Homo sapiens: one gene and its partners. The protein of the gene in region 1 interacts with the protein of each later gene in a pairwise test. Each region holds a gene or a part of one and is shown in the gene's direction. Other genes may lie near its edges.

Region 1 (5,221 bases):
ACTGCGCTTCCTCTCAGAACCTTCTGATGCCGTCACAATGCGGGGAGGAAATGTCCTCCTCGACTGCTCCGCGGAGTCCGACCGAGGAGTTCCAGTGATCAAGTGGAAGAAAGATGGCATTCATCTGGCCTTGGGAATGGATGAAAGGAAGCAGCAACTTTCAAATGGGTCTCTGCTGATACAAAACATACTTCATTCCAGACACCACAAGCCAGATGAGGGACTTTACCAATGTGAGGCATCTTTAGGAGATTCTGGCTCAATTATTAGTCGGACAGCAAAAGTTGCAGTAGCAGGTAGGTGGATTCTTCCTTCTCTTCCTCCTCCTCCTTCCTCTCTTCTTCTTATTCATTTTTGGGGATGAGAAAATAATTTTTGTAGAAATAATGTACATTTTAAAAATCTTTTAAATTTTAAGTTGACAAGTAATTATATATTTTTATGAAGTACAATGTCATGTTTTGATGTATGTATACATCGTGGAGTGATTATATCAAGCTAATTAACATATCTGTCACCACATACTTCTCTCTTTTCTGTGGTGAGAACATTTAAAATCTACTCTTTTAGCAATTTTGATATATACGTTGCTGTGCAATAGATATTAAAAGCTTATTTCTTCTCTCTCACTGAAACCTTGTGCCCTTTGACAAACATCTTTCCATTCCTTACCACGCCCCATCTTCCCAAGCCTCTGGTAACCATTCTGCTCTCTAGTTCTATGAGTCTGACTTTTTTATAATAGATTCTACCTGTAAGTGAGATCATGCAGTATTTTTCTTTCAGTGCCTGGCATGTTTCCCTTAGCATAATATCCTGTAGGTTCATCTATGTTATCACAAATAACAGGATTTACTCTTTTTAAAGGCTGAATAGTATTCCATTGTGTGTGTGTATGTATATCATATATACACACACACACATATATATATATATCTCATATTTTCTTTACCCATTCGTGATTGATTCCACATCTTGGCTGTTGTGAATAATGCTGCAATTAACATGGAGTATAGATATCTCTTATATACCCTCATTTCAATTCCTTTGGATATATACCCATAAGTAGGATTGTTGTATCATATGGTAATTCTAATTTTAGTTTTTTGAGAAAGCTACATAACCATTTTTCATAATGGCTATCTAATTTACATTTTCACCAACAACGCACATTTTTAAGAAAAAGGAAAGATGTAAAAAGATTCATGTTTATTCTGTCATGGATTTGACTGACCTTTCTCCTTAAATTATCTTAGAAAACAGTCATAGGACCTCAACTGGCTGCGTAAAGTTATGAGATTATTTTTTTAAACAAAACTGTTTCAAGTTGACTTACTACTTATATCTAAGGGAGGACTTCTCATTAACAGAAAAATATTAGAAAATATAATTTGCTAATTTTACTTTACAGCTTCATTAAATGCTAAACTTTTGCAGAGTCCATTTTTTTGTTGTGGGGCCTTAAGAAGAGTAAATTTTATTTTAATTATAGTGGCATGGCCTACAACATATACATGTCAAGTAAGAAATAAAAATTCCTTCTAGTGCTTCCAAATTTCTTAACGCTTGGTAACATGTTGGCTCAACAGCTGAGTAATAAGATGAACAGTTTTTGTTTTCACCTGGATACACTGAAGTCATGTAGACTCTGAAAAAATGGTACTGACCATTCTGGAACCCATGATATTGCTATTTCTGCCCCACTCTTCTGGTTAGAAGGCAGCTCATAATTATTTCTGTTGGCCCCTGAAATGTTAGACCTGCAAAGTGAAGAATCAGTTTTTTTACTTGTTTCTATAAAGATTTGACCAAAACCTGTCTTTTTTTTTAACTTTTATATTGACCATAAAGCAAGGCAAGCAGATTGAACTTGAAATAAATTTAAGTTATGAATGGGTAAGCAGATTTGAAGGGCTGCTTTCAACGTAATCTTTAGTTCTCAATAAAAACAATATTGAATCATAGGCTGTTTAGTCATTTGTTATGGGTTTTCTTTCCCAGGTCCTACTTAGTCTAGTCTCATCTTGGAAGACTGATCAGAATAACTCATTTTCATCAATAACAGGACAATTGGGCAGAATCACCACTCCTTCATGCACTCTCCTAGTGAGGGTCTGAGAAAGTTGAAATCTGAAAGATGTGATTTTGTCAGGTGGTGCTATAAAGAATTACATCTCATAGATATGTGGTTAATTCCCATATGTAGCTTCAAACCACTCTTCTGTAGCTTTTCTCCACTAAGAACTCTGTAGACTGAATGTTTTTTCTCCCTAAAATGTGTATATTGAAATTCTAACCCCCAATGTGATAGCACTGGGAGGTGGAGCCTTTGAGAGATAATTAGATCATGGGGTGGAGCCCTCATGAATGTGATTAGTGCCGTTATAAAAGTAACCACAGAACACCCCTGCTCCTTTCACCATGTGAGGATACAATGAGACGTCTGTAATCTGCAACCCAGAAGAGGACCCTCATCAGAAACCAATCATGCTGGCACCCTGATCTCAGATTTCCAGCCTCCAGAACTTTGAGAAATCAATGTCTGTTGTTTACAGCCTACCCAGTCCAGATACTTTGTGATAGCCACCCAAACTGATGAAGGCAGAGTTTTCCATAGTCAGTTAAGCCAGATTTTACCTAGAGGTAGACTGGCTAGCCATTCTGCTTTTCTTTGGACTGACTTGGCTTTTGCACTTGAAAGTCCCATATCCTGGGAAGCCACCTCAGTGCCAGGTAAAACCAGGACAGTGGGTCACTCTACCTCAAAGTGTCCCTGGTCTGCTTTAGCAATGACAGACTGAGGTGCAGATGCAGAAAACCCCCTCTACTCAGGAGACAGGCCAGGTGACATCCTGATGGTGAAAATCAAGGCTATAAAGTAACTGGAACCTTGGAGTGATGAGTGTCTGAAATTTGATTGATGAGTATAAAGTGTAGAGAGAACTGAATGTTAATGTTAATTATGATTGATTAGGAGAAACAAGTGGAATAAATCCTTCAGATTTGGTAAAAGCAGCTTTCTCAGAATGCTCCAAATGAAGTGGAAAGGGGACAATTTGACTTTCAGTCACTAGAGAATTTCTGGCCTCATAGATCCCACCCATCAGTTGTCCACAAGGCCAGAGGAGGTCTGCTGATTTGAATGAAGCAGGCTGATATTTTGATGCCTTATTATGAAAGGCAGCTGCCTATGCACTGTTAATGAAAATGGCCTGTTACATTGCAGTTTCAGTCTTCATGCAATCTACATTCACATTTACATGTGCTGTCTTTCAGTAGTGAAATGAAGAAGAGTTCCTTCGCTGTGAGATATTAAAATACAGTGGCTTGGACTTTAGTATTCTGTACAAGGATAGGCACACGGATTCAGTCACTGAGTTAAAATCTCATATTAGATTGTATCATTTCAAGGCAATAAGGCTGTTCACAGCATTTTAAACACTTACCATGCTGTTTGGCAACACAGAATACATCAATGTTATGTCTGCTGAGGTTAAGATTGCCAAACCACTAGAATTCACAAGGGGCATATATCTTCCCAGTAATAAAGACCATGGACCTGATTTAATCTCAGTTTTAAAGCATTAGCACTCAATAAACCAGTCACCACTAAATGGTAACAGTAGGCTTTGCTTGGGTAAAACAACAACAACAAAAAAATGTTTTGTACTCTCAGGTGCTGTATAGAGCCCATATTAAATAATGTCCCTCTTCCATTTTTGCTTTCTCAAAGTGTCTTTTGATAAAAAGAAGTGTAGCAAATGAAATCTGTCTTTAATCAGTCAGCACATTTTACACAATGATCTTGCCATGCACCATTCATCCTATTTTCTAGGAGCTTCTCAAGTGCTCTTAAAGGCTTGAGTGCACACTTGGCTGGAGAGGGAAGGAAAGTAGGAAAGATAAACGAAGAACTATCATTCCATCCAACATTTTCTTAAAAGTTGCAAAGTAACAGGCTACTGACTCTCAGTATTTCTAGTCATTTTGAGTTCTATCAGTAAAGAATACCTGGGCTATTAAGCCTCCATTTGAAAGCAACTTCATCATACTGGCTGAAATTTGGGAATTTTATTTTTATCCAATTAGCTCTAATCTAAAATGCTGCAGTGTTTCTGTGCCATGTATACTTCTATTTAGTCCTCTAGATTGAGAACAGCTGAAGAAGGGAAGCAGCGCTGAACTTATCTATGAAGCTTTCCTACCATCCCCTCTACTGTGTATCTAGCAAAGTATGTCATGTTAATAGTAGACATTTGCCTTACCAATGAAGACCTGGGGCTTTATGCCATATAAAGAGAGCTTTCCGCTGTTGCCATCCTCCTCTCTACCTCTCCTTCTTTGTCTCCCTTCTACTCCTCCTCCTTCTTCACTGGATTTCAGCAGATCAAACTCACCCATATATGTGCATACATAAACATACTCTTAACAAACTGAGTTGGAATAATTTGCTTTATATCTCAATAGCCTACAAATTAATTAACTATTGAAAACTTTGTGATTAGAAAATTGACTGTTTGGGAATATTCAAGTGCCACTTAAAAAGGAAAAAGCATGAGCATTTCTTCATTCCTTCCCTAACCCTTACCGTGAAAATGAACTTGCATCTGGCCAAGCACATCTTCCCTACTCTAAACGTTGCCAGCTATCTGAGCCTCTGGAGTATTTTCTGTTCAGCAGACATAATAATAACCTACCTCCCAAGGCTGTGGTAATTTTCAAACAACATCTAGGATGTAAAGCTCTAGTGCAGAGTAGATTCTTATTCAATGACAGCCATAGTATAAATAGAACTAACAATTATTATTATTGTGTTATTTTAATAATTATTAGGAATGAACAACTTTCAATATTCCCATGTGATGATGCAAAATATTTTTTTTCAGGGCAATGAAAAATAGGCAACAAATCCTGAGACATACATATTGTAATCTTGGATCAGATATCTGCCTTTGCAATCTGTGAACACAAACTGGCAAGCCTGAATTAAGTTTTCAAAAAGTTAAATCTATGGGAGATTTTTTGGCAAGCAGTGCCCAAATCCCTTGGAATAAAAGATTCATTTTTGACCACTGGATCTACTATTATGTTAATGCAATCAATACAGTTTGTACTGACCAGAGCAGGCGTTTGAGATTGAGTGACCTTGCAATCATTTCCAAAACATGTACAGGGCACTCCTCTCAGCCTTCTTAATGGCTTTTCAACTGAAAAAGATTCA
Region 2 (5,221 bases), on another chromosome or scaffold:
TCTTCATTCTGCGTGTCTGCTTCCTTCTCTCTCAGCAGACCAGCCTCTGTCCATTCATTCATTGGACATTTAGGGACCATCGAAGCTGTTAGAATGGAGACCTCAGCCCCTGAGTCTTGAGCCTTTCAGTGAGTCTTCCCACCCCACCCCTCATGTTCCAGTTCTAAATTCCCCAAAGAAAAAATCTGATTGGCCCAGCCAGGAATAATTTCCACTTCTGGTCCAATTGGTAGGGGACGCAGGGAGGGACTGGGGTTAGGGGATGAGGTCACCTGGTTCACAGGGCTATCTCCCCTCCAAGACTGTGAGGGACTGTCATCCCCCCGCTCCAGCCCCAGCTATTTCAGTAGAAGCTGCATAGTTGCAAATATTTTCCCAAAGCAAGTTTTCACTCGATTTAATTTAAACACACATATACCTAAGCAAAATTTACATAAGCCATGCTGCTTTTTTTTAGAATAGGTGGTGTGTGACATTTATTTAACACAGAATCAACATTCAGTGTCCTTACTCAAATTTGAGTGGTTCCCAAAGGTAGATATTTTTCATACTCTATTTCCAGCCTAAAATTGGGTGAAATTGAGCATGTGTATGTACAATTCCTGGGAATTAAGAGTTAAACTCCAACAGTAATGCCTCTCAGTCGAAGCCTCCTTGGAAAATATGTTCAGATTTCATGCCACACTAAACGTCTGCCACAGGTCAGGTCTGTAGAAATTTCATTCATTCAACAGTCTGACAAAAGCCCCTGTACTTCTCATTTGTTTGAACATGTTAAAATCCAGAAGAAACAAAACCTGCAAAGCCTCTTCTAAGAATAGCTGTGAAGGGAGCTGGAAGCTATGAGATCAGAATGAATAATAATTTTTGCATTTCACACAAAAGCCAGGTAGGAAGTAAAGCATAATGGGGGCCTCTTGGATGCCAGGTGTTTAACACCTGATGGCATCTAATCCTCACAAAAACCTTCACTGGTGCCACCATGCCCAGATGAGACATGAGAGGGTCTGAGAGGCTGAGGAACCTGCCCGTTGTCTCACCACAAATGCTGACCCAGCCAACTGCTCACCCTGGCCCCCCGCCCCCAGCCCCCAAACCCAGTCCTTTCTACAACCTGCTCTCTCTCCAAATAGCAGTAGTCAGAGGCTGTGCTGAGGCCTCCCAGAAACCTTTCCCCTATGTGGATGTAACCTTCTCGAGACCTGCTTTTGGAGTTCAACCTGTGCTGAAGGGGCAGAGAAAAATCCTATGGCAGGAGGGGCACTTGAGATAAGCCTCATAGGAGGAGAGAAGCTTCTCCCTGTGTGGAAGGAGGCAGCACACAGGCCACAGAGAGGCGCAGAAGGGACAACTGAGGCCAAGAGAGGCGGAAGGTCCCCAGACGGGTTTTCTAAAATATCTTTCTCTGAATAGCATTTTTACTTAAATTTGATATGCAAATGCAGATAATTGGTATTCATGTAAATATTTACTGCTTAAAACAGAAAGTTACTTGTAATAGGCCAGGCACAGTGGCTCACGCCTGTAATCCCAGCACTTTGGGAGGCTGAGGCAGGCAGATCACGAGGTCAAAAGATCGAGACCATCCTGGCCAACATGGTGAAACCTTGTCTCTACTAAAAATACAACAATTAGCTGCCTCAGGAGGCTGAGGCAGGAGAATCACTTGAACCAGGGAGGCAGAGGTTGCAGTGAGCCGAGATCGCACCACTGCACTCCAGCCTGGTGACAGAGCAAGACTCCATCTCGAAAAAAGAGAAAGTTACTTATAATAGAAAGCCTGTTCAAATGTGGCAAGTGCAACGTATTCTTTTGGAGGCTCTAAACCCAAGCCTGCAGGTCCCTGATACGTCTTCTTTGCCATCTAGTGGTAGCCATTAGAACTGCATGTGTGGGCCCGGCGCCGTGGCTCACGCCTGTAATTCCCGCATTTTGAGGGGCCGAGGTGGGTGGATCCCTTGAGCCCAGGAGTTTGAGACAGCCTGGACAACATGGCAAAGCCCTGTCAAAAAATACAAAAAATTAAAAAAACGAAAAACAAGAAACAACCTAACAACCTAGCCAAGTGTGGTGGCACATGCCTGTAGTTCTAGCTACTCGGGAGGCTGAGGTGATAAGGAGGCAGAGGTTGCAGTGAGCCATGATCATGCCACTGCACTCTAGCCTGGGCAACAGAGTGAGTCTCTGTCTCAAAAAAAGAAAAGAAAAGGAACTGCATGTTTGATGTCTCAAGATGACAGACCCTGCCTCTAAGGCAACAAATCCAGCTTGTTTAGTGATGGTCTAATGCTAATTTAGAGCAAATGTTTTAAACCTATGAAAATAAGTACAGTGCTCTAAAAGTGGTTTGTTTTTCCCCCATCAACACACTCCTTTCTTTGCAAGCCTACCTGGGCCCTAAATGCCTTAGGTTCGAATTCAGCCATACACCTGAGCAGTTAGTAAGCCCTAGCAACCAGCCTCAGATAACTGAGTTTTTAACATGTGCTGAAGTCTAAACCAATGCTGGCAGCTAACTCCCTAGACTGAGGCCATTCTGAGGCTCAGGGGGAACAGGGTGGGATAGAGTGGAGAGAGCACTGGGCTAGACTTTGGGAGCCCTGGGTTCTGTTTCCACTCTGCCACCAACTGACTATGTAATGTTGAGCAGGTAACTTCTGCTTTCTAAGCCTTGGTTTTTCCACCACTGCAATAAGGAGTTTGTTTAGACCAGAGATGACCAGTAGGAAGCAGCTACCTGGAGCCCTGTCCTGAGAGAGTTTCTGAGGCAGCCTTCAGACTCAGTGGGAAAGAGTACTGTGATCAATTACTTATGTCTACCATGGGCTTAGACAAAGGGAATGCTGCCATGATCAGTTAGTTATGTCTGCCCTGGGCACAGACGAAAAGGATAGAGGCCAGTGTATCTCACGTTTGCTATCCTTGAACTCAGTGACCTATGGAGGTCCCTCCCCACCAGCTCTGAGAGAACGGAGCTTCCTATTTCCCAGGAGACCTGTGACTGTTCTCTTCATCCACTCAGCTTCGACTTAGGAAGGTTTTGTACAAATATCTGAACCAAATTTGGGAGAAATTCCTTCCCAATCTACTGGGGAAAGAGAAGGGATATTTCTTTTTTCTTTTGAGATTCAACCATGTTTCTAAGAGTTGTGAGCCTCAAAAGAAGGTGGAGGTCATGAATCCAATCTAGAGAGAACCCAAAGAAGCATAAATATCTGGATGAGGGAATGTGTTCCTTAAATGCTCGTTATGACCAGAGAGTCAGAGGCTTTCTAAAGCGACATCTCTCCAGGGTCCTCTGAGGAACATTCATTCTACTAGGCCCCCATGGGTGCAATGGACAACAGGGGCTCTGTGGACCCCCTGGGCGACCCTGGGTTAGAGTCAGCCACACAGCGTTTTGTCACCACAGGACTTCTCAGAGGCTTTACTAAGACAGTGTGTGTCATAAGCCTCTCAGGGGCTAGAATGGGCAGCATTCCCCAGATATCTTTGAATATAGAACCTTGTGTTCACCTAGCATCTTGGGAGACCAGTAGTCCCTGGAAGACATTTTTGGAAAATGACTTCTTGGATTGGCCCGGGATGAGAGCTGCCAGGGAAGATGGGAGAAGTAGAGAAAACAGTACTTATCCCAGGAAGACTTCCCTGCTCAGCCCTGTGGGTTTTTGTTTGTTTCTTACCCATGATTTCATTAGAGCCTTATGCTAACTTGGCGGGGAGGGGAAGTAAAGGAGAAAAAAAGCTATGTGCATTGAGCACCTCCTAAATGCCAGGCAGTGAGCGAGGCAAGGTAGGTCTGTCTCAAGATGCCTCTTGGCCCCGGGGGGATAGATATTGTTAATCTCACTTTACAGATCATGAAACCAAGGCCCAGAGAGGTTAGTGTACTTGCCAAGGTCTCAAAGCCTGTGAATACTAAGGTGAGGATAGCTAACATTTATAAAGAGCTCACTGTGTGGCAGGCACTGTGTGGGGCACTGAATGAGCTCTGTTCATCCTCAAAATAGTCCTGTGATTATTATGAGACTGAGGCTTACAGGGGTTCAGTAACTTGCCCAAGGTCACCCAGGAAGCCACAAGATCAGGATTTACCCAAGCAGCCTGATTTCAGAGCCCCTGCTCTGAAGTGACCCCCATTGCTCTGGAAATCGCCGGTCATCCTCCCCAAAAGAGCGTTTATCTCACCCCAGGTGCCAGGAGCACAAATCTGGTTAGGGAGTGGGATTGCACTGATGCTCACATGGAAGGACTTTCCCCCTGGAACCCAGGAAGCCACCTCTGCCATGTGCTGCCTGGCAGGGCCACGGCTTCTGTAATCACTCCAGGCCTTCCCTACTACTCCAGGCTGGCGGCCATTGCCCTGCTGGTCCTAGAGGAGGAGGAGAGCGCCTTCTGGTGCCTGGTGGCCATTGTGGAGACCATCATGCCCGCTGATTACTACTGCAACACGCTGACGGCATCCCAGGTAAGTGGGGCCAGGAGGGGACTTTGCAGCCATGTAGGGCAGTGCCCCAGAGCTGTTCCTAGAAGCCTGTGACTCTCAGGAAAGTTGGGAATCTCTCGGGCTTCCATTTCTCCCTCTGCACTGTGGGAGTGCATTTGGCTGCATGGAAGAGAAGCCCAACCTAACAACAGCTTCAATCGGGGATTATTATTCTCAGATAGTGAATGACAAGGCAGTACCGCAGGGTTCAGGCTCCTAGCTCCCTGCTCTGCCATCTCTGGCAGGTGGCCTTCATCCTCACACCCATCACCTCCTGGTCACAAAATGGCTGCATCGCCTCCAGCACTGTGGGCATGGCCTAGGCCAGGAGAAGCAGAAGGTGAACACCAGGAGCTGGCTCCCTGACCCAGCAATTTCTACTTGCAGTTTACTGGTCAGAACTATTTCATGGCTGCCCTAGTTGCAAGGCAAGTTAGGAAATGTACATATTTAATTTTTACATCTTAACATCTCTGAAATTGATGTGTGTTATATGACCCTTTTTTCCATATTTTATTATGGAAAATTTCCCACATTCAAAACGATAGAGGGAATAGTATAATGAACCTCCATGTGTCCATTACCTGGCTTCAGTTATCAACCCAGGGAGCCAGTGTTATTTCTTCTGAACTCCCATCCGCTCCTCCTGCTTTGTCTTGAAGTAAATTTCTGGCATTGTATCAGTTCATCCATAAATCCTTCAGTAGGTCAATGGCATCTTAGACTTGGGGAGTT
Region 3 (3,986 bases), on another chromosome or scaffold:
GTCAGAGTTTAAGGTTATCTCTCTTGTTCCCTGAACATTGCTGTTATCCTGTTCTTTTTTCAAGGTGCCCAGATTTCATATTGTTCAAACACACATGCTCTACAAACAATTTGTGCAGTTAACGCAATCATCACAGGGTCCCTGAGGTGACATACATCCTCCTCATCTTACAAAGATGATGGGATTAAGAGATTAAAGTAAAGACAGGCATAGGAAATCACAAGGGTATTGATTGGGGAAGTGATAAGTGTCCATGAAATCTTCACAATTTATGTTCAGAGATTGCAGTAAAGACAGGAGTAAGAAATTATAAAAGTATTAATTTGGGGAACTAATAAATGTCCATGAAATTTTCACAATTTATGTTCTTCTGCCATGGCTTCAGCCGGTCCCTCCATTTGGGGTTCCTGACTTCCCACAACACCAGTGAGTTGTTGCTTCATTACATCTGGCCTTGACCTGGGCATTCTTTGCATCAGTGCACCATGGCCATGCACAAAATTTTCTGAATCCTAGAAGAAAGGGAGCCATACTGTGGAATCATCTTTTACCTTACCAATGGGTTACCTTTTTTCTTCTTAAATAACATGGCTCAAAGATTGTCAGGGCTGCTGCAGATAAAATGAAATTTCTAGGCTTCTCTTGTGGGAAATAAATAATCAAAGAATTTAGCCCATTTGCTATATAGATAGCAAGTCTTCCAAAATTATGTCTGAAATTTCCATATCTTAATTACTTTGGGGCATAATTTACAGTTTATGTAATCCAGTATATGTGGACTTAATTGTATTTCTTGAAATATGTATATATATATGTATATATATATATATATATTTTTTTTTTTTTCGAGAGGGTCTCACTTTGTCACCCAGGCTGGATGGAGTACAGTGATGCAGTCACGGCTCACTGCAGCCCTGACCTCCCAGGCTCAAGCGATCCTCCTCCCTTAGCCTCCTGAGTAGCTGGGACTATAGGCACAGGCCATTACACCCGGCTAATTTTTGTATTTTTTGTAGAGACAGGGCTGGGCTATGTTGCCCAGGCTGGTCTCGAACTCCTGAGCTCAAGATACCTGCCCGCCTTGGCCTCCCAAAGTGCTGGGATTACAGGTGTGAGCCACTGTGCCCGGCCAATGTGTACTTTCTTGTCCCAGTTTTGTTTTAAAATCGAATTTAGAATTCTCTAACTTGATTTCTCATGATCTGATCCAATCAGGTTCTTTTATCATAGGTGAGATCAGCTGATTTGCCTAAGACCACACCACCCGATAGAGGAAAAGCTGGGAATAGTAACTGAGTCTGTTGACTTTCAATTCAGTGCTTTTCCCACGATGCTGTGTATAATTTTAAATAACTATACTGTAAATGAATCATACAATAATTCTTTTTTTTTATGATATTTGGTCCATCAGAAAAAAAATTTTTAATGAAAGAAATGTCATTTAATATGATATTGATATTTTATTCTGTTATTAGTTTAAATATGCATATACTTTATGGGGGTTGTACAGTAGTCATTATTACCTCATTTTATAATACAATGTTAAGTCTCAAATGAAACTTGTTTTTTAGTTAAAGATTTCCAGAGTGACTCCATTCAGAGTAGAAAAACTATAAGCTGGAGTGTTTTAAGATTGTTCAGTAACCGTTTTTCAGTTCAGGCAAGTCTAACCTGGGATGCTTAAGTTACTTTGGAATTGACTAAATAATTTTCCATCATAATGGATCAAAGAAAAGCTCCTTTGACTCCTCACTGCTCCCTCTTCTTCCTCTCTTCCTCCTAGGAGTGAAGTGCAACCAGTGGTCTGAGGAGGCTTCTATGGTGTTTCGAAATCATGTGGAGAAGAAACCTCTGGTGGCACTGGTGCAGACAGTCATTGAAAATGCTAACCCTTGGGACCGGAAAGTAGTGGTCTACTTAGTGGACACATCGTTGCCAGACACCGATACCTGGATTCATGATTTTATGTCAGAGTATCTGATAGAGCTTTCAAAAGTTAATTAATGACTGCCTCTGAAACCTTGACAACTAATTCAGATTTTTTAGCAATAACAAAATGTAGTAGGCTTAAAAAAAATCTTAACTCTGCTACATGGCTCTGACTGCTGTGGGGGATTGAAAAGAATATGCTTATGTTTGATGAAAGATATTTAACAAGTTTTGTTTTAACAGAGTTGACTTTTCAAAGAAAATTGTACTTGAATTATTACTATAATATTAGAATAAAAATGTTTATCAATATAAAAGCTGACTACCTTTTAATTTCTAGGCTTCATGATCTTAAGATGAAAGCTTCCGTTTCATGTTGTCTTCCTTGCAGAGCTGGGTTCTTCTCCAGTGAAGCTGAGACTATTATGACTTAACTCTACCCTGATGTAGTAGTGTATCTCAAAGCAAGTGATCACCAAAGCATGTGAGGACTTATCCTGAGTCTTAACACATCAGCATTTCTAGAGGAGCAGCCCAGGCAAACCAACGTGACCCTCAACCCAAATCTTGAGTGGCTTCTCTTCTCATTGCCCACAGAGTCCAGCTAGGACCCAGGCTTTCTACAATCCTCCTACCCAACCTCCTTATCTACCACTCCCTGCCACACTGTACCTTTATTTGGTCACTGAACCCCTGCTTATTCCATTCTGTCAACCTGCATCTCATTCTCCTCCCATCATTTTTGCTTGTCAGTGTCCTGCCTGACCTCCTGGGCCAACCATGAAGCTTTCTCTGGTACCCCTTTCTACTCCATCGTACTTTGATCATGCCTCTCTTGGTGCCCATATGTCACTGTGTTTTATAGTATATGACTAGTCTGTGCACCGATTACCCCAGCTAGATCATGGTCTCCCTGAAAGAGGGACGGGTCTTAGTCATCTCCGGTGATATACCAGTAAATGTTTGACAACTGGTTCTGTTGAGTGGGGAGCTGAGCCTTGATTTGTAGTGTCTGAAAATTCTCATATTGTAAATGGTCCCACCATTGTTGATTTTCAGCTAATAATATGACAAGACTGAATGTGGAGTTGGGAAGAGACTCACCTAAGCAGCTCTTGAGACCGCATATGACAGGCTCTCCAGCACACCACCGTCTGAGCATCCACAGCCGTCAGAATGGCATCTTACACACATCAGGCACTCCTTTTGTGCTTGCTAATTGATGGGCAGATAGATTGGCAGACAGGTTATAGGCTTTAGCAGTGGTCCAAAGATGAGGTGGGGAGGCCCTGGACTAAGAGTGGAGCAATGGTGTTGAAGAAAAAGTGTTGATGACCTTGTAAAGTTTTTAATTACAATTATTAGACAGCTTAGATACAGATTGGGAAGAGTGAAGCCAAGTCTTAAGGTATGAGAGCCTAGGACCTTACTCAGATGGAGTGGGGGAGTGGGAAGCTTAAAAATTTGATTTTGAACACACTGAATTTGAGCTAATAGACTTCCATGTGAAGATATGCAGAATCTTGGAAATGTGGAATAAACTTCAGGGGCAAAAACCAGGCTGGAAATAAAAATTCTCAATGTCATTTGTTTGTTTTTATTTGAGAAAAATCCAGAAACAAATGAGAACAGAAAGAGGAAGGTAGAGACCAAATATTTGAAGTTTTTCATTTTAAACATGTCAAAATTATCTCTAGCTTTTTAAAACTCAGTATTTACAACAAGTGATTCAAAATTCAGGAGTGCTGAATGCCAGTGATTTATCACTTATGATGAAATAAAAATATCCCAACACAGAAATGTTTAAGTGAAATAAACTGGTATGTTTTTAATAATTGTTTCATTCTCTAATAAAAAAATGGAAAAATCCTCAAATTGTCTACAGGTTAGGAAAAGGTTTCTATTTCACTGACTTTAGAAATGTTTCCATTACTTTTATTTATTTATTTATTTATTTATTTATTTATTTATTTTTTGCAAGGCAGAAGAATTTTTCTTAGTACAGAACAAAATGGAGTCTCCCATGTCTACTTCTTTCTACACAGACACAGCAACAA
Region 4 (5,221 bases), on another chromosome or scaffold:
GCTTAAAGAGTTATCAAAGGAACAAGCTAATTGTATGTTGTGAGCAAGTGCTGCACAGGAAGTGAAAAGGGCGATGACGTGAGAGCTTTCTGGGGAGCTAGGAATGTTTTCTGTCTTGATGGAAGTTTGGGTCCCAAGGGTGTGTGCAATCATCAAAACTCATTGAATTGGACCCTTGAGACCTGGGCATTTTACTATATGTCAATTATACCTCAATAAACAAAGCATATATTGAAAGAAAGAAAAACAAAGGATGAAGAGGGAGGGCTTCTGAGAGGAGATGACATTGAGGTGGACCACATTGAGGGGAGGCCTGGAGGAGAAGGCTCTGGCTATGGGGAAGGAAGATGAGAAAACTGAGGCTCTAGGAGGTTTTGGGCTCAGGGTCAACTCAAGGGGTCAGGAGAGACAGCTCAGGGGATTTCTTGGCAGCTGGACCTGGGCCCAGGCTGAGGGCTCTGGCTCCTGTGATGTACTCTGCAGAGAGGCCAGTGGGGCGTTTATTATATTTTCCGGGGACGGCCCTCTCCCCTGTCCCTATGCCTATTTTCAGGGCTTTGGCGTTTGTAGAGGGACTATTTTAATCCATGTGGGAAATGGGTTCCTAAATATGGACTCAGTGGGGCAGAAGCCTTGAGAGGCTCCAGCTCAGGGCAGCTCCACCTGCTCCTCTACCTCAGCAAAGCACAGGATGCAGGCCCAGGCTGGAAGGCTCTCCAGCCCCTCCTTGGCCATCTACCGCCCTCCTTCTTTCCCTCTGGCTCCTCCTATCTCCCTCCAGTCCTGGGCCCATCCTCCCATCCTTTGTTTGCTCGGAAGCCCAGTGTTTCCTGCCAGGCCCCAGCCAGGGACCCCCAAGTGAACTTGACCTGCCTCTGCCCTCAAGCTGCTCCCAGGGTGGTAGGAGGAACAGAAGCAAAACCAGTAAGAAAGGTGCTGGGAGGGGCCGGGCGTGGTGGCTCACACCTGTAATCCCAGCACTTTGGGTGGGTGGATCACGAGGTCAGGAGATCGAGACCATCTTGGCTAACACGGTGAAACCCCATCTCCACTAAAAATGCAAAAAATAGCTGGGCGTGGTGGCGGGCACCTGTAGTCCCAGCTACTCGGGAGGCTGAGGCAGAATGACGTGAACCCGGGAGGCGGAGCTTGCAGTGAGCCGAGATCGTGCCACTGCACTCCAGCCTGGGTGACAGAGCAAGACTCTGTCTCAAAAAAAAAAAAAAGAAAAGAAAAAGAAAAAAAGGTGCTGGGAGGACTTTCCAGAGAGAGAAAGAGAGAGAGAGAGAGAGAGAGAGAGAGAGATGGAGACAGAGAGAGAGAGAGATTGATCGATCTGAATTGAGCCCTGAAGTTTCCCCAAAAAGAGGGAGTTGACCCAACAGAGAGGATGAGGCAAGAATGCACATGACAGGGACCAGCACAGACCTAGACACAGAGGCCTGGGGGAGTAAGGCCTGTTTGGGAACAACATATATATTTTTCTGGCCAGAACAAAGTGGTTTTGGCCCAGAGGTGGCAGGAAGTGAGGTGGGAAAGGAAGGCAAGCCCTGCGTGCTGGGGGAGGACATTTATCTGGAAGATGTGAGGAAGTGTCTGTGGCCACAGGTGGATTAGAGTCATAAGGGGAGAGGCAGGGCTGAGGACCCTAATGAAAGCATTCCAGCTGTGAGCTTGGACTTTTAAGAGAGAAGAGGAGGACTCTGATGTGGGAGTGAGATGCCACAAGGCAGGCAGTGAGGAGGGAGTGTGGGAGCCAGCCTGGGAGGCCTGACAGGAGATGGTCAGGTCAGACTGGGGAGGAGAGAACCAGGCAGGGGGAGGGGGAGGAGGCAAAGAAGGAACCCGGTGCAGGGAGGGAGGATGGTACCTCTTGGCTCCTGTGGCTGAGGATTGGGGTACCCCTAGCTAGGGCCGCCACAGGACATGGTGGAGGCAAGTGGGGGGCACTGAGCTTTCTGGTCCCAGTGCTGAGAAAGAAGCTGGTGATTGGGAATTGTGCGGGCACTAACCTGAGGGGTGTTCTGGAAGGCAAGGGCAGCATGAGCAAGGATCCATGGTGTCCAGGCAGGAGTGTCTGCCCACAGCAGCCTTGACGCACACCCCCAGCCTGCTCTGGGTAATGGAGCAGGGGCACAGAGCTGCTAGAGGGCTTGTCCAGCCCCTGGCTCTCTGTATTCCTTGCACTGCCTGTATTCCCAGGCTAGGGTTGAGGGGAGCAGCTCCAGAAAAGGAGGGACAGCCAAGGGGCAGCAGGCTCGAGAAACCACTGCCTGCCTCTCCCCTCTCTGGGACACTGCCCTGACCCAGTTTGTCTTTACCTAGAGAGCGTGCATGGTCACAGAGCCTGCCCCTAACAGTGCCCTGTGTAAAGTGGCCTGGCTCTCCCCATCCTGCAGAGGAGGAAATTAAGGCTGGGGCAGCCCAGGGTCCTATGGCTGCTGAGCAGTGCTGATCCGAGCCCCGGTCTTGAGCATCAGCCCTGGTCCCCAGCCCTCCTCCATTAGGAAACACAGTGTCACAGATGGTCCTTGAGTGAGCAACCCTTTTTGGGGGTGGCTTGTCCCTGCTGTCCCCATTCTGGGCCATCTCCTCATGCATGCTGACTTCTTCTTCTCCCCCTACAGCAGGGCCACTGTGAGGCCTTGTTCATTTCTGGTGCTGGTTGGCAGCCACAGTCCAGGGCTGAGTTAACCCGAGCAAGGATCCTGATGCCCGCCCACTGGATGCTTGCCTTGGCTGGGATGCACCCTGTGGGGATGACTCTGCTATTATACCATTTTACAGAGTTGTGGGCTGCAGCTTGGAGCTGTGAATGTATGCCTGAGGTCACACCGAGTCATTGGAGGAATTCAATCCCAAACCCACATCTCACTCCACTCAGCTGTCATCTCCCTCAACTAGGGTCCTCCCTTCCCCCAGTCTCTACCTCTGGGTCCTTACCGGTGATCTGTAAGCATGGAATGAGGGTGGAGGCTGGGCAGCTAGGTCACCTTGAGATGGCCCCACCTCTCTCACAGTGCGATGACATTGTCGCCCTGGTACTGCATAGCAGCTCCCAGGAAGGCTATAAAGTTACCTTGGGAGCTGGGTACTGACTGGGTGGTCATGACCAAGCAACTCATTTTAGAAGCACTTTTCTTGGTAGTGAGAGTTTTGTTCTCATGCCCACTCCTGGAGAATCTGAAGTCTTAATTACTTTTACCCCTACAGGAGTGTGGCCTTGTCTCCCTCCACTCTGGGCCAGTTTCTTTGTGGGAGATAGATTGACAGACACAGGCCTCAACCTCTCCTGCAGGAAGTCTTCCTTCTCACTCCAGCACTCTCCTGATCATGCTGAGTCCTGTAGGGCAGATTTGCGTGTTAGTGCACCCTCTCCCCTCCCCAGCCTTTCCCCAGCACCTTCTGCTTCTACACTTACATTTCTCATAGATGCCCAGGGTGAGAATCACAAGGGAGGCACCAAGGGCCTACTATGTACCAGGTGCTATCCTGTACAATTTACATGTACAATTTCCAACCCTAGCCTAGGAAATGGAACAGCTGTGTCATCCTTATGGTAAAAATGAGGCTCAAGGGATGTGTGGCCCCTGGCTTGGGGTCCCATGGCTGCTGTGTGATTAGAGTGGGGTTATAAAACCCACTCAATTTCCATCTGAGAAGGGAAGCAAGGGCTTCTTTGGCCTCTGAGCCCCTCGAAGCAGTCAGCCACCTCCTACGGACTCCTTGAACTACCTGCCAAGCTGCTTGAGCCCAGGACTGACCCTCAAGTCCAGAGGCTCACTGGACCACAAGTCAGAGAAACCTAGATTCAAATTCTCATTCTGCTCCTTATAAGCTGTGTGACCTGGGGCAGGTCACAGGCCTCAGAGCTTATATGTTTTTGTCTGCAAAATGATGGTAGAGGGCTCTGAGCCTGACACTTTCTATGTGCACCCACCTACAGCTCCTGTATGACAGCCCCAAGGCCCGGCAGGAGGTAGACCATCACTGGCAGGCTTCTGGCGGCCCCCATATTGTCTGCATCCTGGATGTGTATGAGAACATGCACCATGGCAAGCGCTGTCTCCTCATCATCATGGAATGGTATGCTGGCCTGCCCTGTCTCCACACCCCCTCGGCATCCCTGTGGCCCTCAGGCTCCCTGCCACGCTTCTAGGGGCTTTCTTTGTTTTTCAGGTAGCAGATCTGGGTGCCACTGTAGCCCCTGAGGGGCAATGGAGCAGGCAGCCGCAGGCCCTGCCTGTGGATCTATGGAGTTGGCCATAAGGACATTCCCTCAAGGGTGGGCAAGAAACCACAGGGGTTAATATGGCCTCCCTGAGTGTGATTTCTACTCTGTGAGGAGGACTGGAAGAGCTGTCAGAGAAGGCTCCCAATCCCTGAATATGGATGGATGGGGGATTTGGGGAAGAACAGGACCCACGCAGTTCCCTCAGCTTTCTCTCCTTTTGACCTGGGTATGTGCTCCCATGGTCCCACCAGGAACTGGGTGCTTGGGGCCTAGAACCAGGAGCCAGTGGCCTTTTCCACCCTGGGCTTCTTCCTGTAACACCATGGCTCAGCACCAGCCATCCTTGGACCGGTTAGCCAGTTCTTCAGATTTGGGGTTCAGATCCTGCCTCTGCTACCCACTAGCTATGTGACCGTGGGCAGCTCTTAACCTCTCTGAATCTCTGTAACTCAGATGTAAGATGTGGGAAAGATCTTAATGTAGCATTTACCCTGTGCTTGACTCCATTCTAAGTGGCCCATGTGTATTGCATATTCAATCTGCATGACTATGGGGTTGGTGCTGTCATCCCTATTATACAAAAGAGATAGCTGAGGCACAGAGAGGTGAAAGAACCAGCCCAGGATCACACAACAGCGCTCATGAAACGTGGATCCCAGGGCATGGCACACAGTAGGTGCCCAGAGAACAGTGGTCATATGATGATAATTAACATCTCATCCCACATTTGGGGAAACAGAGACTTGAATGGGGTTGGGAGTACCCAAGCCCTCACAGTCAGGTAGGGGCCGTGCCACTGGGAACACACAGGCTTCTTGGCAGGGATCAGAGCCCACCACCCTCTTCTAGTTCCAAGAGTTCAGTTCAACCCACCTAAGCTGACAACCCACCATGCACCAGGTTCTACAAGGGACAGGGAGGCTGACAGTGGCTGTTCAGTAGGGGAGGAGCGGAGCAGCAGGGTCTGAAGCCTGGGCCTATGATTTG
Region 5 (5,221 bases), on another chromosome or scaffold:
TTCAGGCTGGAGGTCACAGGGGGAGGAGTCCTGAGGTGGGAAAGTGTTTCTGGAAAAGTTGCCCACTCAATTTGACCAAAGCATGGAGTACTCATGGTAGGGCGTTCGTGGATGTGAAATTGTGGGTACATTGGGGAAGCATCAAATGGCAAGGGTGAACACTTTACACTTTTGGGGGTATAGAAAAGGAGAGATCAAGGATTTTGAAAGTTTTTTGAGTGGGGCAGTTGCGTGACTGGAGACAAATCTGGAGAAGGTGTGGCTGGAAGTATATCGGAAGAGCGAAAGATAGGATATGGGAAAACCAGTGGCAAGGGGGAGCCGTCAGTTGAGTAGCCAGCAGAGCTGCAGCCTTGGAGGGGAGAGGAAGGATTTGGAAGAAGTCTGAGCATGGATTAGATGAGAAGGGCTGTGAGGGAGTTTCTGAAATCGCTGGTCCTAGCAATTGAATGCAGAGCCCATGCCACCACAAAACAAAACAACACAAAAACAAAAACAAGGAGGAGCTGGTTTTTAGTCTGGGGAAGGAGGGAAGATGATCCCAACATTTTGGAAACGCTGAACTTGAGATGTTAGAGGGTGATCTGTTGGGAGATGCTGTCCAGCTGCAGGCTGTTTTGCCTGTCTGTTTTGGCACGCTTGCCCTGAGGCAGAGAAAAGAGGAGGAGATCTGGACCAGTTTAGCAGACAGGAATGTGCAGGGATTCAGAGCACGTTTTGGAGAGAGATGGAGCCAAGCTTAGATTCCTGGCCCTGCCATTCAACGTCTGTGAGGATTGGGCTGTTGATGTGACATCACTGAACCTGTTTCTCCAATTGTTAAGATGGAGACAGCCTCAGAGACTCGTAGGAGGATCAATTAAGTTTACTAATTGGGTACCAATGTTATTAATATCATTGTTTTCCTGAAGGCTATATTTCTTTATTTTTCAGACAGAGTCTAGCTCTGTCACCCAGGCTGGAGGGCTGTGGTGTGGTGTGATCTCGGTTCACTGCAACCTCCACCTCCAAGGTTCAGGTGATTTTCCTGCCTCAGCCTTCCAGGTAGCTGGGATTATAGGTTCCTGCCACCACACTCAACTAATTTTTGTATTTTTAGTAGAGACGGGGTTTCACTATGTTGGCCAGTCTGGTCTTGAACTCCTCACTTCGTCATCCACCCGCCTCAGCCTCCCAAAGTGCTGGGCTTACAAGTGTGAGCCACCGTGCCTGGTCTATTTTATTTTCATTTTTTTGTAAACTTTTATTTGCATGTTTTGTTCTTCATTTCTTAGCAGTAGCCTGTATGCTATCAGCAGGGAGAGAGTCCAGGCTAGCATGTTACATATTAGAACAATGTTGCACCCAAGAGTGGCTGCAGGAAATGTCCTCCCATCAGACTCATATTATGTCCAGAAGAGTTACTTTTATATATGGGGTCCTCTCAGCTGTTTGACAGAAGAAATAATAAAGAGCTTCAGATTTCGTTTTAGAATGACACGTCAGCTAATACACGTTTAGGCTTATCTTCCAATTTGCAGTTTTTGGCATTAAGCTTTTAGAAACTTTACCAGATTTATTTTATGTTTCTTGAATTCTCTTCTCCACATGACCAAGGAGTGAAATTGCAAGTTTGTTTGCATAAAAGAAGCGCAGACAGCCACGTTCCATCCTGTTTACCAGTTTAGGCCCCGGTGAATGCAAGCAGAGGCAGGTATTTGTGACCTTTGAAAGCAGCTCTCACTAGCACCTCTTCAATGTATTTCTGAACCTTTGGATGTTCCTGGCTGGGCAAATGGTTGATTACCATGGAATCAAGCAGTAACAAGCCAGTCTTACCTTTGACTTTAGTGATAAGGATTAAGTAATAATCTCCCTCCCTTTTGGTTGAGCTGCGTGTTCCGAGCCCGAGTCTGGTTCTTCTGTGTGCTGTGTGAAGTGTTGCTGCTGCAATCGTGTTACTCAGTCACAGTGACTTCGGGAGGAGATGGTCCTAAGTCAGCAGATCCAGGCAGCCCTGGAGGGCTCTAGTTCTGTCAGCCCCTGGCTCCAATCCTTGTGTCCTTCAGTGTTTTAGAGATGCTGTGGAAGGCAGCCTCCCCCAATCATCACAAATCTGCATGTTCAGTGTCACAAAGTCCATGGCTGTGAAATGGTTCATTCTGTTTTAGAAACCATTTGTAAACTTGGAAAACAATGCTAAAATTTAATTAAAATATCCAAGGATTTCAAAATACTGGCCACATTAATCTATGCTTCTAAGGTGTTCTCCATCATATGAATTAAAATGACTTAGAGCTCTTTAAATTTTTCAGTGGGATTTACAGTAAAAGTAAAGAAGAGATATTATAGGCAGTTTCTCCAGTTGAGTTCTGCTCCCCAAACTCCAGGAAGAGCTCCTTCGTATCTCTGGGGCTGGAAAGGGAAAGGACACAGAGACTTCAACCCTGCCTGGTGCTTTTCCACTTTACTTGGGCTGCAGGGCCAACTAATTTGAATAAAATTGAAGTGAAATGTCAAGAACATCTCAAATAAATAATATTCCCAGTGAGATTTTATCAAATGTAAACTTGGAGCACTTTTTTCTTCTTTTGCCAGTTCCTTATTGGCTGTCCTCCAAGAAGTTGCCTGCAAAACTGGTTTAGAGATACCTCCCCTTCCCCCAATCCCCAGATCAACCCACACTTACTTAGTGGATGCCTGCGGGGCTCTATTGTCATGTGGCTGCCTTGGTGGGGAGTACTATGAACCAGGTGCACCGCGCGCATTATCCATGATCCCCACAAACATGGCCAGAAACAGCCACTCAGGGGCTTTGCACAACTTGATGTCACATCATCAGTAAGAAGCAAAGGCAGAATTTGAACTGAGGTCTTTCTGGTGCTGAGTTCTTGCTTCTCCGCATGGTTGTGTTATGCCAAGGGAGCTAGAGGTGGAAACGGTAATATTTCTTGCACACTTGCCTATGCACCAGGCACTTTTCTGACCACTTTACCTGTATCAACTCAGTTATGCCCCCTCTCTGTAGACTATGAAGCAGACACACTACATTCCCATATTGCAGATGAACCAGAGGTCACAGATGCTAAGTGACTTTCCCCGGCTGCTGAGCATGGAGCAGAGCTGGGATTGGAACCCTGGTGGTGTAGAGTGCCAGCCTGGGGCCTTGACCATTACACTCTAGTTTCCTGAGGAACCGGGTGAAAGGCCATTGCATTTGTCTAACGCTAAGTTTGCACAGCAAACACACTTTTACCAAGAAGCTATGCTAATCTGGAGGGTTTTTTTCAGGAGTTGGGAGTGTTGGATGGTAGAGGTTATGCAGGCAGGCATTACCAATACCACTGGGTCTAATGGAGTTTATGATCTTAGGAATTCTTGGATCCTTTTATTACTCTCTAAATTTATTCATCCATTTACATTGAGAACTTACTATGTGCAGGCATTGTTCTAGGTGCTAAGGATACATGGTGAACAAAATATTCTTTTTTCCAGGATCAAGACTGATAGGTCTTTCTTCCTCCAGAGGCACATTCAGATGTGCCATGTTTATGTAAGAGTTTCGGTCCCCTTGGAGTATACACTCGGCATTTACCTGGTGCCCTGTACTTTTGCTTCAGACCTCACTAGAAAAACCTCTGGCTGCCTGTAAGGTTCTAATTTCGAATGTCCCAGGTAGAGGGCTGTGCCATCCTCAGGATGGCCCAACAGGTGAGGTGAGCTCAGAGGCCCTCCACTCTTGGCATTCTTGTACAAAGCAGGTTGGGCCCAGGCCTCTTAAGATCGAGGTTTTAGGTAGCATTTCCAGGGGTGGCAGCCCTGTCTGTGCCCTCCCTCCCAGTGGCTCTTAGAAGAGAGTGGGCCATTCCTAAGGCCATGAAGACAATGCCCCATAAAGGTCATGCTTCCATGCCTGAGGGCTCTCCCGGTCCTCTCTTGGTGGGGGTTGAGAGACTAGACCCTCCCCCCTACCTCCCCAGGAGTGGGGGTTATGTGATGTCACCAATGCTGGTGTCTCACTCTTGCACACATTTTCCAGGCTCCTGGCACCATGGAAGATCTCCTGGAGGCTGGTGCCTTCAGCTTCAGGCTCTGATCCTTCCTTGTTGCTTTAATTATCCGTCTTACCACCCAAATCAATTAACAGGCTTCCTAGTTAACAGGCTTCCATTTTCTAGGCCAAGGCTTGAGAGGTGAATTAGTTCTTCCAAGCAGCTGTGGTTTTATTTCCAGAAGCGCCCCCATATCAACAGCTGTGCCTATTCAATGGCCATGGATCTGTGAAGGGCACGAGCAGGACTCATGCTAATCAGCTCTGCTTTTTCTATATTAAAAAAAACCTTTGGCCAGGTGTGGTGGCTCACGCCTGTAATCCCAGCACTTTGGGAGGCCAAGATGGGCGGATCGTGGGGTCAGGAGTTCGACACCAGCCTGGTCAACATGGTGAGACCCTGTCTCTACTAAAAATACAAAAATTAGCCAGGTGTGGTGGCAGGTGCCTGTAATCCCAGCTACTCGGGAGGCTGAGACAGGAGAATCGCTTGAACCCGGGAGGGGGAGGTTGCAGTAAGCCAAGATCTCGCCATTGCACTCCAGCCTGGGTGACGGAGCGAGACTCTGTCTCAAAACAAACAAAAAACAACAACAAAAAGCCTTTAATTGAAATTACCCAATAGATTGCATGTAATATATACTTGTTTTATAAACTTGATACAACATAGAACGAGATTTTAAAGTATTTAAATATAGTGTGAATCATGATTAGTGTTTCCTCATCATTGTTCTCTTTGCTATTCTCAAGAAAATCTCAGCTTCAACTTGGATATATGGAAACCAAATATCCGGGTCTCTGGAACAGTGCAATTTAAAAGCATGTCCTAGAATTTTCAGCCGTGGTTTGAAAGCCACCTATTGATTCACACATGCCTGGAAGTAGCTGACATTTGTGCAACACTGTGCCCTGATTCGGCTGGGGCTCTGGGGTTCTATGCAGCCCGTTTGGCCTCCTTGCTGTGAGGTGCGGGGCATTTAAATTCTGTTGCCAACAGTAGCGGCCAGTGGTGCTCTGGCCTCAGCAGGTGCCCTGTTCTCTTGTTTGCTGCCTGCTACTTCTCAAGGAAGGCCTCAAGCCACTTTGCTCCTTATGCTCTGACATTTCTCCTCTTAGGCCCAATACAGAAAAGGTGGAGAAAACCTCACAATGTTGCCTTTCCCCTCTATGATAAATTTTTTTTTTTTTTTT
Region 6 (5,221 bases), on another chromosome or scaffold:
AACTCATTGTACATGCACATATGGAAAACACATAGACTGGTGGTATATCATTCCTTCCTTGCAGCCTTGGGGAAATGGACAGATATCATGGCTGCAGTGCTGATGTCAACTGTGCTGTGTGGCAGGAGTCTGGGATGAATCACACTACAAGGACAAACATTGGTCAGGTTGTAGAAGTTTTAAACTAGTTTTAACTGTGTGTTCGTATATAACCTAGTTACGCATTTATGGAAAGCATTCCATTCTGACCTAACAGATGCATTTGTTATAGAGGCAGCAGATGAAATGGCAGGTAAACTAGGAGTCAAGAGACCATTCCAGGCTTCAGCCTGCTGGTTGTGAAGTGGGCAAAGGAGAAGGACCTGCTTCCTCTGTGATTCCACAGAATATTTTGAGAATCTTGTAAGAGAGAAGTTCTAAAACTACTTTTTCAGGCTATTGGACACTAAATAGATGAGAGCAGTTATTTTGCTTGTTCTTTCCCAGAACTTGAACTCTCCCACTGGATTGTACTCAACTGGGCCTTAGGTAGTTTTCTCAGAAAAATTCAGTAGCTGATCCACCTTGAATTTTATCAATTTGTAATGGCTAACAAACTTGGATAGCAAGTACTAGAAGATTTTATGATTATTCAGGGACATATTTTCTAGCACTGAATATGTGCCAGACATTGTCCTAGGTGCTAGAGCTATAGTGATAAACAAATCAGATGAAAGTAGAAATCCATGCCCTAAAGAACTTAATGTTTCAATTGGGAAGGTCAAGTCAGATAGGTTAAAAGGCAAACACAGTAGCACTGTAGACATTACTATATAAGCTTTATGGCAACTAGTGTTTGTGCAGTGCTTTACAGTTAGTAAACAGTGTTCACGTACCTTATCTCACAGTGGCTTTGTGGGTTTGACAAAGTAGCAATCCTCATCTCATAGGTGAGGAAACTAGGGCTCTTTAAGATTAGATAATCTGTCTAATAGCATCCAGCCAGGTGGTCATCTGACTCTAAATCCTTTGAAGTCTTACTTATGCTACAGTGCCTTTCTTTTTCCTACAGATATTGTTAGGCATAATTCATCATCTAGCAAGTCCAGAATCATCTTTCCAGAGTTCCAGCTCATTCATAATAACATGTTTCAGAAATCAGGGTCCTGTATTAGTTACGTTTTTCTTAAATGGAGACGGAATCAAATGTGACTGCATGTAGTTTTTCTGTTCTCATTTGGCCTATTTTCCAAGAGTAAGGTTAGTAGATGGCTATTTGTAGCAGTAACTGGACAGCATCTGTCCAGTGGGACAGCTGGAGACTTGTCTTTAGTATTTGGTAATGCTGACTTATGTGCTGCTTAATCTTTTGAGTCTTGATGGATGTATTAGATTTCTATTGTTGTGTAACAAATTACCACAGAATCATCAGTTTAAACAACACACATGTATTATGTGTTTGAAACATTATTATGTATCTGTGGGTCAGAAGGATGGGCACAGCTTAACTAGGTCATCTGCTTAGGTCTCACTAGACTGCAATTAAATTGTCAGCTGATATGAGTTCTTATCTGGAGGCTTGACCATGGAAGAATCTGCTTAAGCTCACTCAGACTGTTGGCCACATTGATTTCCTTGCCATCGTAGTAGGACTGGGGGCCCCAGATTCTTGCTGGTTGTTGGCTGGAGGCTGCCCTCAGTGTCTAAAGGCTGTTTGCAGTTCCTTGCTATGTGGGCTTCCTAGCACGCCTGCCTACTTCAGCAAGCCTTCAAGGAGAGTCTCTCGAGTGAGTCTTCCAGCCAGCAGCAGTGCTAATGAAAAGCATAGTCACTGGAGGGACATCATACCTCTTTTGCCATATTCTGTTGGTTAGAAGCCAGTCACACTCAAGGGGAAGGATTATATAAGGGCATGAACTTCAGGAGGTGCGGGTCACAGGGCCACTTTTGGATCTGTTTGCCACAGTAAGAACCTTCATTGGTCCCACAGAGATATACTGAGGACTACTATATCCCTGGAACAGAAGCACCAGTGATACAAAGATGAGTTGGTCCCAGCCTGTGTTAAGGGGCCTGCCTGCGTCTAGGGATGAAGACTCTAAGCAGGTCACTACCCTACCGTGGGGAAAGCGCTCTAGCAGAGGTTTGTGCACAGGCTTCTCTATGGGGACTGTAGGAAAGAATGCTTTTGTCTGGAGGAGCCAGAAAGGCTTTGTAAAAGGTGTGCTTTTGAGGGCCTCAAAGAGCAAGTAGGAGTTTGATAGGTAGAGAAGAGGATGGGCTACCAGGTAGCAAGAAGGGTGTGTGTTGGTACTAGGTCTGTGTGAGAGAATTATGAGTAAGTGCAGTGAGGCGTAAGCAGACAGTGTTAGAGGATTCTGGGGCGTGACTGTATTCTCCAAGTGTTTGCACTGTTCTTCATTTTTCACGTTTTTATGTCATAGGTGGAGCTATATACCTTTCTGGAATTGACATGATACATGGCACACCCGTACTAGACATCAAGCCCTACATAGCTGAGTATGACTCACCGCAAAATGTGATGGAGCCTTTAGCAGACTTTAATTTACAGAATAACCAACATACACCAAACACTGTGTCCCAGTCTGACAGCAAGACTGACAGCTGTGACCAGCGACAGCTCTCAGGGTGTGATGAGCCACAACCCCACCATAGCACTAAGAGGAAACCTAAATGTCCTGAAGACAGAACTTCAGAAGAAAACTACCTGACACACAGTGACACAGCCAGAATTCAGCAAGCATTTCCTATGCACAGGGAGATAGCAGTGGATTTTGGTTTGGAATCAAGACGTGATCAGAGTTCCAGCGTGGCAGAAGAACAAATTGGCCCATATTGCCCAGAGAAGAGCTTTTCAGAGAAAGGTACAGACAAGAAGCTAGAAAGAGTGGAAGGAGCAGCAGTCTTGCAAGGAAGCAGGGCAGAGACACAGCCCATGGCCCCTCACTGCCCTGCTGGAAGGGCTGATGGAGCTCCCCGCAGCGTGGTTCCTGCCTGGGTGACAGAGGCTCCTGTGGCCACTTTAGAAGTGCGGTTTACTCCTCATGCCGAGATGGACCTTGGGCAGCTCAGTTCACAAGGTATCTTCAGTTTCTTCATTCTGAATGAGAGATGAACTTTTACTTTGAGATTTAGCCAAGTTTGGTATTTGTGAAGGCAGGTATGTGGAGTGTTTGTCAGTATGACTGGTTTTTAGGAAACAGGTATAAAATAATATTTTTGCAGTACCATCATGTGATGACTTTTGTTGGACAACTGTGTGGTCAGCACAGTTAGTTCCAGGCTGTCAGTAAAGCATTGGCAGAGAGTGGCTGCTGCCTCACAAGGTGGCCTATGACTTACAGCCCCTTGTCTACTTGCTACAGTAGTTCTTAGAGTCTTCAAATATCATTCAGAAGCTAAATTGTGCTTGTTCTATACTTATGTACATAAAGTTTTCTTATTTGTTTTACTGTCTGACTTGAGAAATGTTGCATTGTATTCTGACTGTCAGGTAGTCGATAGCTCAGCCTCTGGCACAGAGGACTCTAGGAGCCCAGAGTCACAGGGGAAGAGTCTCTTAGCACAGAACTTGCCCCAACAAAGTCCCACTGCTAGAGGCATACACTTTGCTGCAGAAGAGAGGCCACAGGGCTCTTACATGGAGCCTGCTTACTTTAACACATGGTTCTTAACAAATGTTATCTGGTTTCCCCAGCCCACAGCAGATCCCAAGCAGTAGCCTAGGATGAAGGAAGGGGCTGTTAAGATGTGGATACAGCGATACCAGTAAGAAGTAACTAATTTCAGGCTGGGCACGGTGGCTCACTCCTGTAATCCCAGCACTTTGGGAGGCTGAGGTGGGTGGATCACTTGAGGTCCGGAGTTCAAGACCAGCCTGGCCAACATGATGAAACCCTATCTCTATTAAAAATCCAAAAAGCCAGTTTTGGTGGCAGGTGCCTGTAATTTCAGCTACTCAGGAGGCTGAGGCAGGAGAATTGCTTGAACCTAGGAGGCAGAGGTTACAGTGAGCCGAGATGTTGCCACTGTACTCCAGCCTGGGTGACAGAGTGAGACTCCATCAAAAAGAAGAAGCTGGTTGCCAAGGAGATGTCAGATTGCAAAAAGCTGTTCTTTGTGTTACAACTCAGTAAGGAGCCAGCATAACCATATAAAGAGGGAAGTTCATTTATTCATTCTACAGTTGTTTACTGAGCTTCTGCTAGGTACCAGACATTGGTCTAGGTTCTTGGAATACATCAGTGAACAAAACAGATATAAAAAACCCCTGCTGTCATGGAGCTTGCATTCTAATGGGGAGGAGAGAGACAAATTAAAAGTATAATAAGCAATCAAGTTATTAGACCAAACATATTCAACATTATATAATATTAGAAGGTGATAAGAGTTACTGAAAAATTTAAGAATACAGCAGGCTTGGAGTGTTGTTACTATTTTATTTTATTTTTGAGACAGGGTCTCACTCTGTCACCCAGACTGGAGTGCAGTGGCAAGAACATGGCTTACTGCAGCCTCAGCCTTCCGGGCTCAAGCAGTCCTCCCACCTCAGCCTTCTGTGTAGCTGGGACTACAGGTGTGCACCACAACACCTGGCTAATATTTTGATTTTTTTTTTTTTTTTTTTTGAGACGGAGTCTCGCTCTGTCGCCCAGGCTGGAGTGCAATGGCTCGATCTCGGCTCACTGCAAGCTCCGCCTCCCGGGTTCACACCATTCACCTGCCTCCGCCTCCCGAGTAGCTGGGACTACAGGCGCCCGCCACCACACCCAGCTAATTTTTTGTATTTTTAGTAGAGACTGAGTTTCACCGTGTTAGGCAGGATGGTCTCGATCTCCTGACCTTGTGATTCCCCCGCCTTGGCCTCCCAAAGTGTCCAGATTACAGGTGTGAGCCACCGTGCCCAACCTATTTTGAATTTTTAAAGAGACGGGGTCTCATTTTGTTGCCCAGACTTGTCTTGAACTCTTGGGGGTCAGGGGATCCTCTGTCTCAGCCTCCCAAAGTGCAGGGATTACAGGTGTGAGCCACTGCACCTAGCCTGTTGCAATTTTAAATAGGTGGCCCCAGTGGGCCTCACTGAGAAAGACACATATGAGCAAAGGTCAAAGAGGTGAAGACATGAGCCAGCCTGTCCAGAGAAAGGACATGCTGGCCTGAGGGACAGCCAGTGCACAGCCGCAAAGTGGAGGGTGCATGGCACGTTTGAGGTCATGTGGTC

What was found.
Region 2: the proteins of DCC (region 1) and TBC1D2 interact in a two-hybrid assay, tested with the Homo sapiens proteins (one large-scale study listed by BioGRID and IntAct).
Region 3: the proteins of DCC (region 1) and TDRD7 interact in a two-hybrid assay, tested with the Homo sapiens proteins (one large-scale study listed by BioGRID and IntAct).
Region 4: the proteins of DCC (region 1) and MAPKAPK3 interact in a two-hybrid assay, tested with the Homo sapiens proteins (one large-scale study listed by IntAct).
Region 5: the proteins of DCC (region 1) and FBP1 interact in a two-hybrid assay, tested with the Homo sapiens proteins (one large-scale study listed by BioGRID and IntAct).
Region 6: the proteins of DCC (region 1) and TRMO interact in a two-hybrid assay, tested with the Homo sapiens proteins (one large-scale study listed by BioGRID and IntAct).

What each region holds. Positions count from the first base shown.
Region 1 is NC_000018.10:52,752,079-52,757,299, forward strand, and holds part of DCC (netrin receptor DCC), read left to right. Parts: coding exon 1-296; intron 297-5,221. UniProt on the Homo sapiens protein: Receptor for netrin required for axon guidance. Mediates axon attraction of neuronal growth cones in the developing nervous system upon ligand binding. Its association with UNC5 proteins may trigger signaling for axon repulsion.
Region 2 is NC_000009.12:98,202,535-98,207,755, reverse strand, and holds part of TBC1D2 (TBC1 domain family member 2A), read left to right. Parts: intron 1-4,328; coding exon of another isoform or gene 4,329-4,347; coding exon 4,348-4,468; intron 4,469-5,221. UniProt on the Homo sapiens protein: Acts as a GTPase-activating protein for RAB7A. Signal effector acting as a linker between RAC1 and RAB7A, leading to RAB7A inactivation and subsequent inhibition of cadherin degradation and reduced cell-cell adhesion.
Region 3 is NC_000009.12:97,493,880-97,497,865, forward strand, and holds the end of TDRD7 (tudor domain-containing protein 7), read left to right. Parts: intron 1-1,783; coding exon 1,784-2,004; 3' UTR 2,005-2,246; downstream 2,247-3,986. UniProt on the Homo sapiens protein: Component of specific cytoplasmic RNA granules involved in post-transcriptional regulation of specific genes: probably acts by binding to specific mRNAs and regulating their translation.
Region 4 is NC_000003.12:50,636,420-50,641,640, forward strand, and holds part of MAPKAPK3 (MAP kinase-activated protein kinase 3), read left to right. Parts: intron 1-3,946; coding exon 3,947-4,086; intron 4,087-5,221. UniProt on the Homo sapiens protein: Stress-activated serine/threonine-protein kinase involved in cytokines production, endocytosis, cell migration, chromatin remodeling and transcriptional regulation.
Region 5 is NC_000009.12:94,628,382-94,633,602, reverse strand, and holds part of FBP1 (fructose-1,6-bisphosphatase 1), read left to right. Parts: intron 1-5,221. UniProt on the Homo sapiens protein: Catalyzes the hydrolysis of fructose 1,6-bisphosphate to fructose 6-phosphate in the presence of divalent cations, acting as a rate-limiting enzyme in gluconeogenesis. Plays a role in regulating glucose sensing and insulin secretion of pancreatic beta-cells.
Region 6 is NC_000009.12:97,907,819-97,913,039, reverse strand, and holds part of TRMO (tRNA (adenine(37)-N6)-methyltransferase), read left to right. Parts: intron 1-64; exon of another isoform or gene 65-2,022; coding exon of another isoform or gene 2,023-2,122; intron 2,123-2,423; coding exon 2,424-3,080; intron 3,081-5,221. UniProt on the Homo sapiens protein: S-adenosyl-L-methionine-dependent methyltransferase responsible for the addition of the methyl group in the formation of N6-methyl-N6-threonylcarbamoyladenosine at position 37 (m(6)t(6)A37) of the tRNA anticodon loop of tRNA(Ser)(GCU).